Regions from separate parts of the Homo sapiens genome. Here regions 2 and 3 are each linked to region 1. The links come from fine-mapping of genetic effects on gene expression. A gene starts in region 1. Each other region holds a variant in brackets. All regions are shown on one strand. Distances are between the middles of the regions.

Region 1 (5,231 bases):
TTAGCCCACAGACGGGTATAGTTTGCTTTTGTTCCAGGAGACAAAGAAAAAACTGTTGTCATCAGAAAGGCAAGATGTAGGTAATGTCCTGTGTGTTCCATGTCCGTGGGCATGCTTGGCAATCTGTTGGGATAGCAATATAATTTGTTAGTTTGTGAAAGAATAATGGATCCTAGTTTTGGTAATTGTAGTTAAAAGATAGTGTTGAGATGTTACAAGTAAACTACAAGCTTATGCCTAATATTCGCTACCCTGAATTCCTTCTCAACTAAATTTCTTTTCTATTCAGCTATGTATGAAGAAGCATTTTAATTTCTATTAACACTTTTAGATGCTAGAAGTTAGCATTACAAATAAATATTAATCATTTTAAGTGGACTATCATGGCTTTATATAGTTTTCTTCCTTTGAAGCGTGCTAGACTTCTGCTTTGAGTCAGTTAGTTCTGCTTTTACTTTTCTGATTCCTTCTTTAAAAAAAAAAAAAAATTAAGGATCATTCTTACAGAAACTACCCACCCTCTAACCTGTCACCAATCTTTACAGAAGAAATGTGGCCTTGAGCTTCTTGCTTCATGTATGAAATAAATGCAAATTTTTTTGGTGGAAAGAGGGGAAGTTTGGTAGCAACCAAAAGAAACTGAACTTCAAATAGAAATTCAAGGTGTTCTTTTTTTTTCTTGGGTGTTCATCTTGAAGCTTAGAATAAAGCTGGTACTTAGAAATACATTTGTAAGTGTATTTGTGAACGCAATTTTACTGTGGTGGTTGTCTCTTTTCATTTATATTTCCCTGGACTGACTGTGTCTTTCTGAAGGCAAAGGCATACCAGTTTTCTCAACCTAAAAATCTGAAGAAAAAAAAAAAAAAACAGCAAATTTCCTCTGAGTAGACTTAAAAGTTCAACAAAAGTTGCTGGGTTTTCTTTTAAAGCATCATTTATACCTAGCATTTTTTCTGATTTTGACATAATTGTAAAAAAAAATGTGTAATAAAATAGAAATAGAGCATCAGGATCTTGATGATTTGGGATGAAGTGGCAGGTTATAAGCATCTCAACAGATAATTGAAAATGTTGAATTTCCGCTTTGGCCCTGAGCTTGCTGGAAACTAGTACAAAAAGGAGACAAGTTATATTATACATTTTTTAAATCTACCAAATGATTGATTTAAATAGAAATGGCATATCTTAGAATTTAACAGTTCCATGTACTGCTAACCCAGCAGGAAAGATTTATAATCATTATTAAGGTATCTTATAATAATATACCAGTTTGTCTTGAGCTACTTTTGAAAGGAGTATTTTATTGTTAGCATTTATTTGAATGAACTAAAAGCAAAACTATATTGTTCTCCTGAGATTTACTAAATGAAATTGCCTGGTTAAGAACCCTACGTATGCTATAGAAATTCTTCTCAAATGTACTTAGGAGTCCTTTTATTTAAAAAAAAAAAAAAAAGGCAGATTCTTACCTAGCTAGTATAGGTAGGGCCTGAAAGTCTTTGTTTCCAAACCAACTCCTAAGCAACATGGATGCCACTGCTAGTCAGGCTTTTGAACATCAAGGTTTTATAAGAAATGGTTGTTATATGTCATTGGCTGACATTTGTATACTATTAAAATACAGAAATTGAAAATAAGAAATGTGATACGTTGAGTTATGCAAACAAAAGTAGCATGTAATAAACAATGCTAACTGGAGACTATATTTCATATTAATAGTAGGGAGGAAAAACTATTAAATATTCCAGGATTAAGATTACTTTTTAGATTATGACCTTTAGTAGACAATTAAAGGCCCAAGTCACTGGCTTTTGTATAATAGTGTTCAGCTTTAATTTTTAAGTTTAGTGACATAAATCTTTGGATATTTCATGATTCTTCCACAAAAAGAAATACTTGAAATTGGATTAGCAAGTAATTTCCATCTTTTTATACTAGACTGGACTTCTGTATTAGATGCTAGAATGATTTAAAGTAGATTATTCTTTTCACATTAGTTCATTAACAGTGTAGTATACATCATAGTATTGGTACACATTTTAACAGTGCTTACCACGGAACAGATAATAGGCCTGCTGTTGATTGTCTTCAGCCAGATGTACTGCAGTGCCCAAATAAACAAACTGTATGACAAAATGAGACTTTCTCTTGCCCTTACAAATGCCTGAGAATTGAGGACTGTTTTTACTCCAGTTTATGCCTTGGAGGCCAGGTTGTGTTATCAGAAGTTTTCTTATATCTGATCATTTTCAGTAGAATTTATTTTCAGTAGAATTTGTAATGTCCAAGCATTAGTAATGAGAAATTTATTTTTTAACTTTTGAAAAATAACAAAACATTTCCAGTTTACTTGAGGAAACCAAACTTAGATCCTTCGTAATCCTAATTTAAAACTCCATGGCGATGGCAAATTTTTTCATTTCTAACTTAAAATTTATGTAACAGGACAGAAAAAAAAAGTATACATTTTCAGTCACAATTCTAGTTTGTTAGTGAGATTCTTACACACTTTGATAGCATTTCCTCGAACACTAATCTGTCAGACGTTAGAAGTGAAAAGGCATAAGAAAAGCCGTATATATATGACCTACCTTACAAAATGCTTGGTCAAAATCTGATTATAACGTGATTTTGATAAACCACTTCTTTTCTTGTCTTCTTTTTAAAGCAGAATAGACTTGGAGAATATGAGCCTTAAAGTAAATCTGCAGTAAAAAAGGATATGTGCAGCTAGTTTTCCACTTTTAAAACCAAACCACAGATGACACATTTCCTTTCCACTGCAACTAAAGCACATGTCACAGGAGGGAAAAAAAAAAAAACAACGAAAAAGCTCCAACTTCTCTAGTTGGCCACTGGCATGACAGGAGGCTTTGTAGAACCAATCCCCGCCTCCAGAGCAGGGAGGGTTTTCCACTTAATGCCTTTTGACAGTATGCTCATTCTATAGGCCTGCTACATGCTTTAGTGTCATTCAAAAGAGGTTTTGAAATGGTATCTTCCATTTCAAATCTTCTCTAAAAGACTTATTTGAAATCTACAGACTGATTTGAAAATGTGAGTTTGGAGTCCATGGGATACTGATCAGATAATGTAACAATTGTGGAACTGCAGCAATTATTTGAGAAAATATCTAGTAAACTTAGATTATATGGGACAGAAAATGCTTTCGTGTGGTGTAGTGTGTGTATACACACACACACACACACACACACACACACACACAACTGTCAAACATCCTGTCATCACCTCAAGTTTAACATGACTGAAACAGACTTTAAGAACTAGGTATGGGCTGAACACGGTGGCTCACACCTGTAATCCCAGCACGTTGGGAGGGTTGACGCAGGCAGATCACTTGAGGCCAGGAGTTCAAGACCAGCCTGGCCAACATAGAGAAAACCTGTCTCTACTAAAAATATAAAAATTAACCAGGCAGGGTAGCATGCACCTGTAGTCCCACCTACTTGGGAGGCTGAGACAGGAGAATAGCTTGAACCCGGGACGTGGAGGCTGCAGAGATCATGAGATCTTGGCTGCATGAGCTAAGATCATGCCACTGCACTCCAGCCAGGAAGACAGAGTAAGACTCTGTCTCAAAAAAAAAAAAAAAAAAAAAAAAAAAAAAAAAAAGAACTGGATATGGCAGCACATATCTGTAATCCCAGCTACTAGGTAGGTTGAGGTAGGAGGATCACTGGTGGAGCCCAGGAGTTCAAATCCAGCCTGGGTAACATAGCAAGACTCCATCTCTTAAAAATTAATTAAATTAATGAAATAAAAAGAACTTTATTTTTTCTTTAAAGGAGGCTGCCTGTGACAGTCTTCTTGTTTCTGTTCATGATAGCAACATTCTAATATCAGAGGCTTAGTATACAACACATCATTTTAATTTAAGTCCTCTCAGTCCTGATCAGACTTTGAATCATGTTGGTCCTTCCTTCATATTGTTGGATCAGTTTCTTTTTCCCTGTTTTTACTGTCAACAGTACTATTTTAGATCCTTATCAGGTCATACCTAGACTCTACAGTGCCTTTTCGGTAGCCCTGAATCCTTCTTATATCTTGTATACATCACTGTCTTTGGTCATACCACCCTTTCTTTAAGGGAAAATAAAACCGGTTGAACAGTTCCCTAATACATACAACAATGATTCAGAAATGTTTGTGTACATAAACATCAGATGAGAAGATTGTTTAAAAATTATAAAAGCAGGACATGGTGGCTCACACCTGTAATCTCAGCACTTTGGGAGGCTGAGGCGGGAGGATTACTTGAGCCACAGAAATTCGAGACCAGCCTGGGCAGCATGGCAAAATCCTGTCTCTACAAAAAATACAAAAAAACAAAAACAAAAAACTAGCCGGGCATGGTGGCGCTTATCTGTAGTCCCAGCTACTCAGGAGGCTGAGGTGGGAGGATCACCTGAGCCTGGGGAGGTCAAGGCTACAGTGAGCTGTGACCGTGCCACTGCAGTCCAGCCTGAGTTAAGGGAAAAAAAAAAAAGATAAAAATTTCCAGGCCCCACTACATAGATCCATATTTAGTAGGTCCAGGTTGGGACCAGGAAACTGCATTTTTATCAAGCACCACAGTTGATTCTGACGCCAGTAGTCCACAGAACATATGCTGAGAAATGGTGAGCCCCTAGTAGAAAACCTAAGCCCTTTGGTTGGGCAGTTATGGTCTCTCCACAATTTGACTATTCTGTATTTTCCCAGCTTTATCTCTCAAAACTTCTCTACCTGAATCCTCCATTCTGGCTAGACTAGCTGTCTCTTCAACACATCTAGTTACCTGTTTCTTTTCCTTTTTGCCTTTCTCCATAAGGCCTGCCCAGTCCTCTTGCTGAGTCTGCATTCCTCCTTACCTGATTCAGCCACTGTATCTTCTATGTAGCTTTCACTGACTGCCCAGTTTGTGTTAATCTCTCTCTCTCTCTCCTTTGTCTTAATAACAGTATTTTCTCTGCATTTCCTTTGATAAGTGATTACTTTCTACCTCATATCTTCTATCTTGAAATATTTGTGTTGTTTTAAAATCATTTGACTTGTCATATTTTTATCTTATTTTCTCCCAACAAGATTAAAAATTCTGAGGTGAAGTTTTTTATTGATACATGATAATTTGTACATATTAATGGAGTATGTGTGATTTTTTTGGTTTTTTTTGTTTTTGTTTTTGTTGGAATCTCGCTCTATCGCCCAGGCTGGAGTGCAGTGGCACA
Region 2 (5,231 bases), 63 kb after region 1:
CATTGCTGCTTATTTTTCTCCACACAGCACTGCTCAGCACGCAGGCATGTGAGGAAGCTGGGCTTAAAGGAGACTCCAGCAAATGGAGAGACAGACCACAGTCCTGGGTTGGAAAGCTGAATATCGTTGAATGCCAGATCTTCCCAAATAAATGAACTGGCTTAATACAATTCTGATCAAGATGCCAACAAGAAGAGAGTGTATCCAGACAAAATGATCTTTGGAAAATATTCTTCACCTTGTGGAATAAACAGGAAAGCATGGCTAACAACGGGTTGTCGAAAACTTCCTTATTAGGTAGTAAAACAAATTTTTAAATGCTTAAATACTAATGGTAATTAGAGTAAATATAAAGTGGAACAGGCTAGAAGGTCCAGATTATGCTTTGATTTTTTTATTTAAAAAGACAAGCATGAGTAACTCCCAAAGTGTATTGGCTTCAAAGCCACAAAAGCTTATTTCTCACCTCTGCTACATGTCCATCACCCGTTATCAGGAGGCTCTGCTCACCCTGATGTCTTGGGACTCCAGAGTGAGTGATCAGCCATCTCTGATCACTCACTCATTTGATCTACAAATGGCTAGCCATCATGCCAGAGGGAAGGAGCTCAGGCTGTAATGTCCAGCCGCTGTGATGATGGAAATGTTCTGCTGGAAGCTGAAACAGAGGGGTCCCATTTTCATTTGTCACATTAGCAAAGACGTACTTAACTAATATTGGTGCCAGTCCAGAATGTGGTGCAATGAGTTCTTCCTGCACTTGGCCTCATCTTTCTGTATTACCAGTTCCATATCTGCACTGTCCAGGACAGTGGCCACTAGCCACATGTGGCCATTGAACACTTGAAATGTGGTTAGTGAGAATGGGAAACTAAACTTTTATATTAAATAAATGTAAATAGTTACATGTGGCTACTGGCTGCTAGATTGGACAGAGCAGCATCTGGAAGCTCTTGCATCAGCAATTAAAGGCTTGAGGACAGATACACAGTCACTTTTCACAGTCATTGCCAGAACTTGACACACAGCTTCACAAAGTCACAAGGGTCAAAAATCACTATCTTCCTCTGTTCAAAAGGGAAAGAGCTGGAAACATTGGCCAAGAACATTAATGACTCCTACAATAGGGAAGGACTTTGTAAGCTTAAAAGCAGTGTAAGTGCAGTGGCTCACGCCTGTAATCCTAGCACTTCAGGAGGCCGAGGCGGGTGGATTGCCTGAGCTCAGGAGTTCAAGACCAGCCTGGGCAACATGGGCCTCTCTACCAAAATACAATACGTTCTCGGGCGTGGCGGCATGTGCCTGTAATCCCAGCTGCTCAGGAGGCTGAGATAGGAGAATTGCTTGAACCCGGGAGGCGGAGGTTGCAGCGAGCTGAGATTGTGCCATTGCATTCCAGCCTGGGTGACAGAGCAGGACTCCGTCTCAAAAAAAAAAAAAAAAAGCAGTGTAAGCTTAAAAGCAGAAATCCTAAGGGTCCCGCATTGACTGCCTAACATTAAAATGTCCCCATGTCCAAAAAAATCACACACAAAATTAAAAGGCCAACCAATAGGGAATTATAAAGAGTTCATAAAAACTCATCTAAAGAAAAAACCTAAGCAGAAAGAAAAATGGGCAAAGAACATGAATGGCCAATCCACAGAAATATTGTACCAACTCCTGTTTATGATGGAAAAGGTCATCACACTCATTAGTAAACAAAAAGAAATACAAACTGAAACAATGGGATACCTGATACATATTTTCACTTGTCACATTAGCAAAGACACTTAACTAATACTTGGTGCAGGTCAAGAATGTGGTGCGATGAGTTCTTCCTGCAGATGGCCTCATCTCTCTGTATTACCAGCCTTAAAAATGTCCATACTGGCTGGGCGTGGTGGCTTATGCCTGTAA[T/G]CCTAGCACTTCAGGAGGCTGAGGCAGGTGGATCAGCTGAGGTCGTGAGTTTGAGACCAGCCTGACCAACATGGAGAAACCCCCGTCTCTACTAAAAATACAAAATTAGCCGGGCGTGGTGGTGCATGCCTGTTAATCCCAGCTACTCAGGAGGCTGAGGCAGAAGAATCACTTGAACCCGGGAGGCGGAGGCTGTGGTGAGCTGAGATTGCGCCATTGCACTCCAGTCTGGGCAACAAGAGCGAAACTCCGTCTCAAAAAAAAAAAAAAAAAAAAAAGTCCATACCATTCGCCCTAGTAATTATCTAGGAATCTATTCTGGAGAAACAAATGGTAAAAGAGTGAAGACTTTCATCAAAGTATTATAATATCAGAAAACCTGAAGACAACCAAAATATTGGTTAAATTATCTACATTCATCCAGCACTTTCTGGAAGCTGACCACTTCCTTATGCAGCCTTTAAAAATGGCCTAATAATATTTAAATTTTGGGAGGGAACTTCCAATAAAATCAAGAGTTTTAAAACCACATAAGAGGGCTAATTCCCAATTATATAAATACAAATATATGTGTATAGTTTTTGCATAGGATAAAGAAAAGGAAATGTATTGAATGTTAACAATATGTATGGCTCACTTACTCCTTTTTGTGTCTATCTTCTAAGCATTTTACAATGATTATTGCTTTGAAAACAAAAAGGGTTTTAAGAGATGAGGATAATGCTTACTTTTAGTTGTACTAAAAAGGATGTTTATGATAGCAGAGTTTAGGTATTACATTAACTACCACCTCTTGGATGTTTTTACCTTTATCTTTTTCCTTTTATCAAAAGGTAGCTCTTTACTAATTCGGATTACAGGGAGCTGGGTTTGTTTTCCTTCCTTAGGGGAGTATCAGCATAACTAGTTTAGAGTGGTGCAGGTGAACTGCTGTCAACTCCGTAGGCCAACCCTAAACCTTCACTGTTATTTTATAACTTCTACTCAACAGCTTGCAACCTTTCAAGGTTAACAAGGTTGATGGGGAATGGTCCTTGCTCTCAAGAAGCTCGTAGGCGGCCAGGCACTGTGGCTTATGCCTGTAATCCCAGCATTTTGGGAAGCTGAGGCAGGTGGATCACCTGAGGTCAAGAGTTCAAGACCAGCCTGGCCAACATGGTGAAACCCCATCTCTACTGCAAATACAAAAAATTAGTAGCCGGGCGTGGTGGCTCACGCCTGTAATCCCAACACTTTGGTAGGCCGAGGCGAGTGGATCACCTGAGGTCGGGAGTTCGGGACCAGCCTGACCAACACGGAGAAACCCTGTCTCTACTAAAAGTACAAAATTAGCCAGGGATGGTGGCATGTGCCTGTAATCCCAGCTATTTGGGAGGCTAAGGCACAAGAATCGCTTTGAACCTGGGAGACAGAGGTTGCAGTGAGCTGAGATCGCACCATTGCACTCCCGCCTGGGCAACAAGAGCGAAACTCCATCTAAAAAAAAAAAAAAAAAAAAAAAAAAAAAGCCAGGCATGGTGACAGGCACCTTGTAATCCCAGCTACTCGGGAGGCTGAGGCAGGAGAATCGCTTGAACACTGCAGAGGTTGCAGTGAGCTGAGGTCACGCCATTGCACTGCAGCCTAGGCAACGAGAGTGAGACTCCATCTCAAAAAAAAAAGAAATACATGGTGAAGGATGTGCACATTTAACTATAATTCAGTCATTTTCCTCACCTCTTTTGGCTTCCAGGCACCTGTTCCCGCTCCTCCTATGGCTCTGACAGCACTTCCTTCACCTGCCTCTTAACTCTCGGCTCTTGACCCTGTGTCTGTTTTCCTAATCTTGGAATGATCCCATCATCCCTGAGAAGACATCTGGGCGCCCTGGCCAGGGGAGACAGCTGATGGGCAGAGCATCCCTGTGTGTGCATCACGAACACACTGTAGAGTCTGCAAAGTTCTGTGAGGGCAGAGCAGTAAGGGCAGCTGACTCAGGGAAGGCTTCTTGGAGGGGGTGGCATTTGAAGGATGGCAGTGGGGGTGGTGGAGGGAGGACAATCCAGGCAGAGGGAACAGCATATGCAAGGCAAGCCAGGCATTTCACTGATCAATTCCATGTTGAGTCACTGTCTTGGAGTCTATGCCACACAATGCCTGGGATATAGTAAGTGCTCAATAAATGTAAACTGAGTATAGTAGATGATGTTACTGCCCAGCCATGTTTTACAGAATGGAGAGCATCAGGCTGTAAAGGGCCTTCCTGCTTGCCGCTCACCCTGAGGATTGAGTTTTTCTTTTAGGCAGAAGTGGGCAGTAGAGAAGGCTCAAAGCCAGGGAATGTGAGTGGATTTGACTCACCAAGGACACTGCTTCCTAAGCCAGGAGGGAAATATTGGTGCCCTGCCTGGAAGTTAGTTTCAGGGGCCATTTCTGCAGCTGACAGAAGGATCTGGAGCCCAGTTGGGTAGAATAAGTTAGGTTTTGGCATTTCTTCTTAGAATCCCGGAAGGAATTTTAGCAATCAGCCGGTCCTGCTTCTAAGGGTCAGAGAAGATTCTGGATACCCCTCACATCAACAGCTCATGCAGCAGAGGAAAGATGAGGTCTCAAGGTGCCCCCCTGCACCCCAAGTGTGCCCTAGTCCAGCCAGGGTCCTCAGCACTCCACAGGCAGGGCTGGCTGTGTCTCCAAGCAGGGGCCTCTCTGCTTTTGCTCACAGAAACATATTCTGGGATCAGTGAAGAAGGAAAATAAGTTCACGGCACCTTCTTCCCCTTCAAAGTGATAATTATTCATGGGTTTAAAAAAACCCAGCAGGTTGTGAACAGGAAGTAACTGAATCCTGCCCCATTTCCAGACAACATGGACAATGAAGTCAAGGCTCACAGATGAAAATACAGAAATGTTCCCCCTTTTAGACTGGTTCTAAACTGCTCCATACTGACACACATAATCACCACCCAGGTGCCAGGTACTGTGCCAAGCGCTGGGCGAGGCATGACGCAATCTTTTTTAAATTAAAAGCCTGAAGGACCTCTACAAGGTAGAAAAACTGAAGCTTAGAGAAATTAACCTGACCAGAGTCATGGGGCTAAAAGAGCAACAGATGTTGGTGCCCAGCTCAGCTGTTTTGAATTCCAAAGCCTGGCTCTTCATAATCTTTGATAACTTCCACATGATATTCATCCCATCTGTATTCATTTCTCATGGCTGCTGTGCTAGCTCCCACAAACTTGGTGGCTTAAAACACCAGAAATTTATTCTGTAACAGTTCTGGAGGCCAGAAGGCCAAAATCCAGGCATCAGCAGGGCTGTGGGCCCTTCAGAGGCTCTGGGAGGGATTCTGCTCC
Region 3 (5,231 bases), 57 kb before region 1:
GAAAAGATCCTCATTGTTAGACACTTACTCTGTGATGATACAGTGAGAGTAGTTTGCTGAATCTTTTAAAGTACCTTTCACAGGACTTTATGCTTAGTAAGTGCTCCTTCGTGTCTGTGATTTGAGTGCTATGTTCATAGTATGTTCCAAAACAGAATAAAACAGAATCTGATGATGAGAAGTTAAAGATTTGTATATAATATGCCTTGAATTGTAAGTGCCTGTTGTTAGTTGTATTACTTACAGGTCATGGTTTTGTACATATAACTCCAAACCATTGATACTGTTAAAAGAATATATGAATATATGAAAGAATGTATAAACATAAGAATGTATGGGTATATAGTGTCCTTTCCAAATTAATTTTTATTTTTAGCTCTACTAGATTTTTTTTAGTGTAACAAATGTTTATTCCTATGTAATTAAGGGCATATTTTCCATACAGACTATTCACATTACCTAATTGAAAATTATATACTACAAAAATATAATACTATTTTTAGGCCAGACATGGTGGCTAATACCTATAACCCCAACATTTTGAGAGGCCAAGGTGAGAGAATTGCTGGAGGCCAGGAGTTCAAGACCAGCCTGGGCAACATAGTGAGACCTTGTCTTTATTAGATAGATAGATAGATAGGTAGGTAGGTAGGTAGGTAGGTAGGTAGGTAGATAGATAGGTAGGTAGGTAGGTAGGTAGGTAGGTAGGTAGATAGATAGATAGATAAGATAAGATAAGATAAGATAGATAAGATAGATAGATTGGGCACAGTGGCTCATGCCTGTAATCCCAGCATTTTGGGAGGCCAAGGCAGGAGGATTGCTTGAGCCCAGGAGTTTGAGACCACCCTGGGCAACATAGCAGGACTCCATCTCTACAAATAATAAAATATTAACCAGGTGTGATGGTACGCACCTGTGGTCCCAGCTACCTGGGAGGCTGAGGTGGGAGGATTGCTTGAGGATGCAGTGAACTGTGATTGCACCAGTGCATTTCCAGCCTAGGTGACAGAATGAGACCTTGTCTATAAATAAAGAAATAAGTAAAAATATAAATAAGTAAAAAGAAATATAAGTAAATATAAATATAAATAAATATAAATATAAAAATGAATGAATCAAAACAGTTTTTAAATTTGACATCACTGAGGACATCCTAGCCATTTTTCTAGAAAAATATTTTTATTATTCCTTTTTTCTGAGATCCTACCTTCCCTTACAAAGCAATCTTTTGTGCTTTTGAAGATTAAGTAATCCAATATATATAATATACTTAGCATAGTATCTGGTACTTGTAAAGTAATTAATAAATGTTGGATCTTATTTTTGTTCTAAATTCCCACTGATGCTCTTGGAGACCCATTTTCTTTTTTTTAAAAAAAATGAAGGTAGCTTTATAATATTCTCAGTTATTTAAAAAATTATTAAATTACTTGATATAGAAATCTAAAGAAAGTTAAAAAAATTAAAAATTGTTTATCCTCCCTCTCAGAATACTTCACTTAACGTTTGGTGAATAGTCTCCCAGTCATTTATCTATGCACATGTACATTTGTTTCTCCTATCAAATGATATCTAGGTTGTTTCCATTAATATTTTTAAAATTCTGACCTGGTACCAGCAGCATGATGGGCTGAGCTAATGCAATCTCTTCCCAAGACATAAGGCTCATAGAAATACTAGGTGTAAAAGAAAATATGTGTACTTAAAAAAATTTAGGCCGAGTGCGGTGACTCACGCCTGTAATCCCAGCATTTTGGGAGGCCGAGGTGGGTAGATCACCTGAGGTCAGGAGTTCGAGGCAAGCCTGGCCAGCATGGCGAAACCCCATCTCTACTAAATAAATAAATATATATATATGAATTAGCCAGGTGTGGTGGTGGGCACTTGTAATCCCAGCTACTTGGGAGGCCAAGGCAGGAGAATCATTTGAACCCGGGAGGCAGAGGTTGCAGTGAGCCGAGATCGTGCCACTGCACTCCAGCCTGGTCAACAAGAGCAAAACTCCATCT[C/CA]AAAAAAAAAAAAAAATTAAATTTATAGCTGAAGCTAGTTTCTAAGCAAATTACCTAGCATACAGTCAGTATAGACAGATAAATGGAAAATATGAAAGAGGTTAGGAGATGCAGAAGATAAAATGAGGAGGTTCAAAATATGTCTAGTAGGTGTTCCCTAGAAACTGAGCTCAGTGAGAATGGGAAGAAGTAATATTTGAAAGGCTAATGGATGTATGTTTTCTAGAGTTGATGAATGACATGAATCTTGAGGTTGAAGAAGCACACTGAGTCTTGAGCAAACTATATAAAAATTAAACCAGGCTTTAATACATATGGGAACATAATATATGCTAAAGCTGGTATTCAGAATCGAGATTAGGATGGACTTTCAATAAATGGTTTTGATAAAACTGAGTAATGATTTGGAAAAATATTTTCATACCATTTATGATAAACTTCCATAAATCAAAAAAAATGAGCAAAGCAAGGCCTTTTTCATCCATTCAAAATCCATAAACTAGAAAAGATTGATAAAATGAATTATTTAAAAAATCATAAACTTCTGTCTGGGACAAAAATGTCATGAGTAAAACCAATCCTATGGTTAATATTCTTGCCCAGTAGTTCTCTTAGAATAGTCCTAAAAGTGCTTTTGTGGTTCAAAGAGTAATACCTTGAAATTTTTGGTGCATGTTGCCAAATTACCCTTTAGAATGCCTGTTGCTTTTAAAATATTTTTTCATTTTAGTATTTTATTGTTTATCCAATTATAGACTTTTTTACATACTCAGTAGACAACATAAAGCCTCATAATTACTCTGTTATTTTTCTTTTAGGCATCAGGTACATGAAAAAGAAGAATTCAAGGCTTTGAAAACGTTAAGTATTTTCTACCAAGCTGGGACTTCCAAAGCTGGGAATCCTATTTTTTATTATGTTGCACGGAGGTAAGAAATACTATGTTTTGGGTCTCTTAACAGAATTTTTTAAATTATAGCAAATATAGAGAGATGGCAAGTTTGGTTTTTCCCAGTTGACTTAACAGGAATTGAAGACAAGTTTACTTGGGAGCATATAGCAGGGTAAATAGCCTGCGTTTCCTAAAATGATGGTCGGTATCTAGTAGCTGCTTTTCATACTACCCATTTCATATTGCTTACTCTGTCCTACATCATTTTTTAAAATACTGCCTGCAATGGATTAATTACCAAGAGTTAAAAACCCACAAAGAATCTTTTGTTTTCAAGTATATTCTGATTAAATAGTACTCACAACATGATAACTGGGAACTTTTTTTAAAGGAAGAAATAAAACTATAAGAGCCTATTTCTGAGAACTTTTAAAAATATGCTGTGTAAGACAGCATCAGGATGATTTAAAAAATAATTCAAAGGAGTGGTGAAAAATCTCTATGAAGATGGTGCAAGGGGTGGCCTGGAAAACGGTGCTTGTTCATGCTGCCCTCAGTTGAGGCTAGTTCCTAGAAAGCCTTTCTGGAAATGTTGTGAGCTCTTCCTTAATAATAGGTATGATGCTTGCCTTGCTTTCCCTACCATTGTCTTTTCTTTTTTGCTTCATTTTACCTTCCTTTTGAAAACTCAATCTGTGACGTTATTTGGTCAGTTTTACTTTTTCCCATTTACCATGACATACATTCATGGTAATTGAGCCTTAGAGACAACATGATACATAGAGAAACCACTGACTTTGGAATCTCAAGGACCATGTTTAGACCTAGTTCTGCTACTCATTAGTTATAGACTTAATCTTTACCAGTTTCCTGAATTTAACAGTATTTAACATCCATGACCATTAAGTTAGTAGACTTACATTGTTAGTCAGCTTGCTGGCCACAGGTGGCAGTGTGTAGGAAACAAATCAAGGTTGAGAAATAGTAGAGAGACGGTGAAGGAAGATCAGTGGAAGATGGGAAACTTGTCTAATAGGGTCATTCAGATAGCCTTAAGACCAAGAAGTCCAAAGGACTGGAGTATTAGGGAATCAAGAAAGTAAGAAAATTGCATTGAACCTCCCGCCACCCCCCTGCCCTTTAACAACTCTAAGTAACCCCTGCTCACCTTCCCATGAAAGGCCTCTCTCCAGCTCTCATCTCAGTTGCCATTTCTAAATTGCCTAAGATCATTTTAATTTTCGTTTGCGTTTGAGATGAACCATATTTGTATTCTAACCCCAACCTTTAATACAACCAGGATATTTTTACTTTTCCGTTGTTGTCTAAGTAAAAAGCAAACATTGGTAAGGGAGGTAGAAGATGTGTTTCCCCCTCTTCTTTAAAATCTTATTAGTTTACAAATAGCAAAGATTTCTGGAAAACAAAGCTGCGTTTTTTTTTTTCGGAATCAGAAACTGTTATATTTGTATTCCCTCTCTGTGGTGATCTAGAAAAAGCTAAAGGAAAGATTGGACCTGCTGCAGATCCCTTAGTGAGATTCAATCAGTTTGGTTTCCATGAAACCTATTGAGTCTTGTGGCCTGAGAATGCTAAGAATTCTCAGCTCTGCTGCTTATTAGCTGCATAATCTTTTTTTTTTTTTTGAAATGGAGTTTCACTCTTGTCACCCAGGCTGGAGTGCAATGGAGCGATCTCGGCTCACTGCAACCTCCACCTCCTGGCTTCAAGTGATTCTCCTGTCTTAGCCTCCCGAGTAGCTGGGATTGCAGACATGTAGAACCATGCGTGGCTGATTTTGTATTTTTAGTAGAGATGGGGTTTCACCATATTGGCCAGGCTGGTCTTGAACTCCTGACCTCAGGTGATCTGCCTGCCTCGGCCTCCCAAAGTGCTGGGAATTACAGGTGTGAGCCACTGCACCTGGCCTTAGCTGCATAATCTTAGATAAGTTTATTTTTCCAAATCTGTTGCTTCATATGTTAAAGCTGGGGTATGTGCTTATAAAAACTGTCTACCTCTCCTATAAAGTGTTTTGTGACCTATAAAGTTGTGTAAGGAGTAAATTTGAGATTTTCTTTTTTTCTTTCATTCTTTTTTTGGGGGATATGGCACTGTCAGTTTCAGATTTTCAATCCTTTTAGTTTCTTACTTAGACCTACTGGAGCTCCTCCTGACCTTCATTTTCACCTGGTGTGAAGCCTAGCTCCAAGACAGATGAGTACACAGTATATCAGAGCAGAGCATCCATTTACTCCATTATGAAGGTCTTGTCTGTCTGTATGCCGTCAGTTTTGTCAAAGAGCACTTGGGTTTGACTTCTCTTT

What was found. PIP is the estimated chance that this variant, and not a neighbour inherited with it, causes the effect. A credible set is the group of variants that fine-mapping cannot tell apart.
Region 2: its variant is the best candidate, but not a certain one, in a credible set for the expression of EVI2A in whole blood (INTERVAL, PIP 0.54).
Region 3: its variant is the best candidate, but not a certain one, in a credible set for the expression of EVI2A in monocytes (Fairfax 2014, PIP 0.85).

Annotation. Positions count from the first base shown.
Region 1 is chr17:31,318,901-31,324,131 of GRCh38, forward strand. EVI2A (ecotropic viral integration site 2A) reads right to left here and starts at 2,722. Exons shown (of 2, transcript NM_014210.4): 1 at 2,595-2,722; 2 at 1-123. The coding sequence starts at 113. The region is part of intron 36 of NF1 (neurofibromin 1); the gene reads left to right.
Region 2 is chr17:31,381,846-31,387,076 of GRCh38, forward strand. No RefSeq gene overlaps it. Among named protein-coding and RNA genes, the nearest start is that of RAB11FIP4, 7.2 kb to the right of the region's middle. The variant T/G (reference allele first, on the strand shown) is at 1,900.
Region 3 is chr17:31,262,399-31,267,629 of GRCh38, forward strand. It overlaps NF1 (neurofibromin 1), which reads left to right. Exons shown (of 58, transcript NM_001042492.3): 36 at 2,831-2,941. Among named protein-coding and RNA genes, the nearest start is that of OMG, 32 kb to the right of the region's middle. The variant C/CA (reference allele first, on the strand shown) is at 2,013.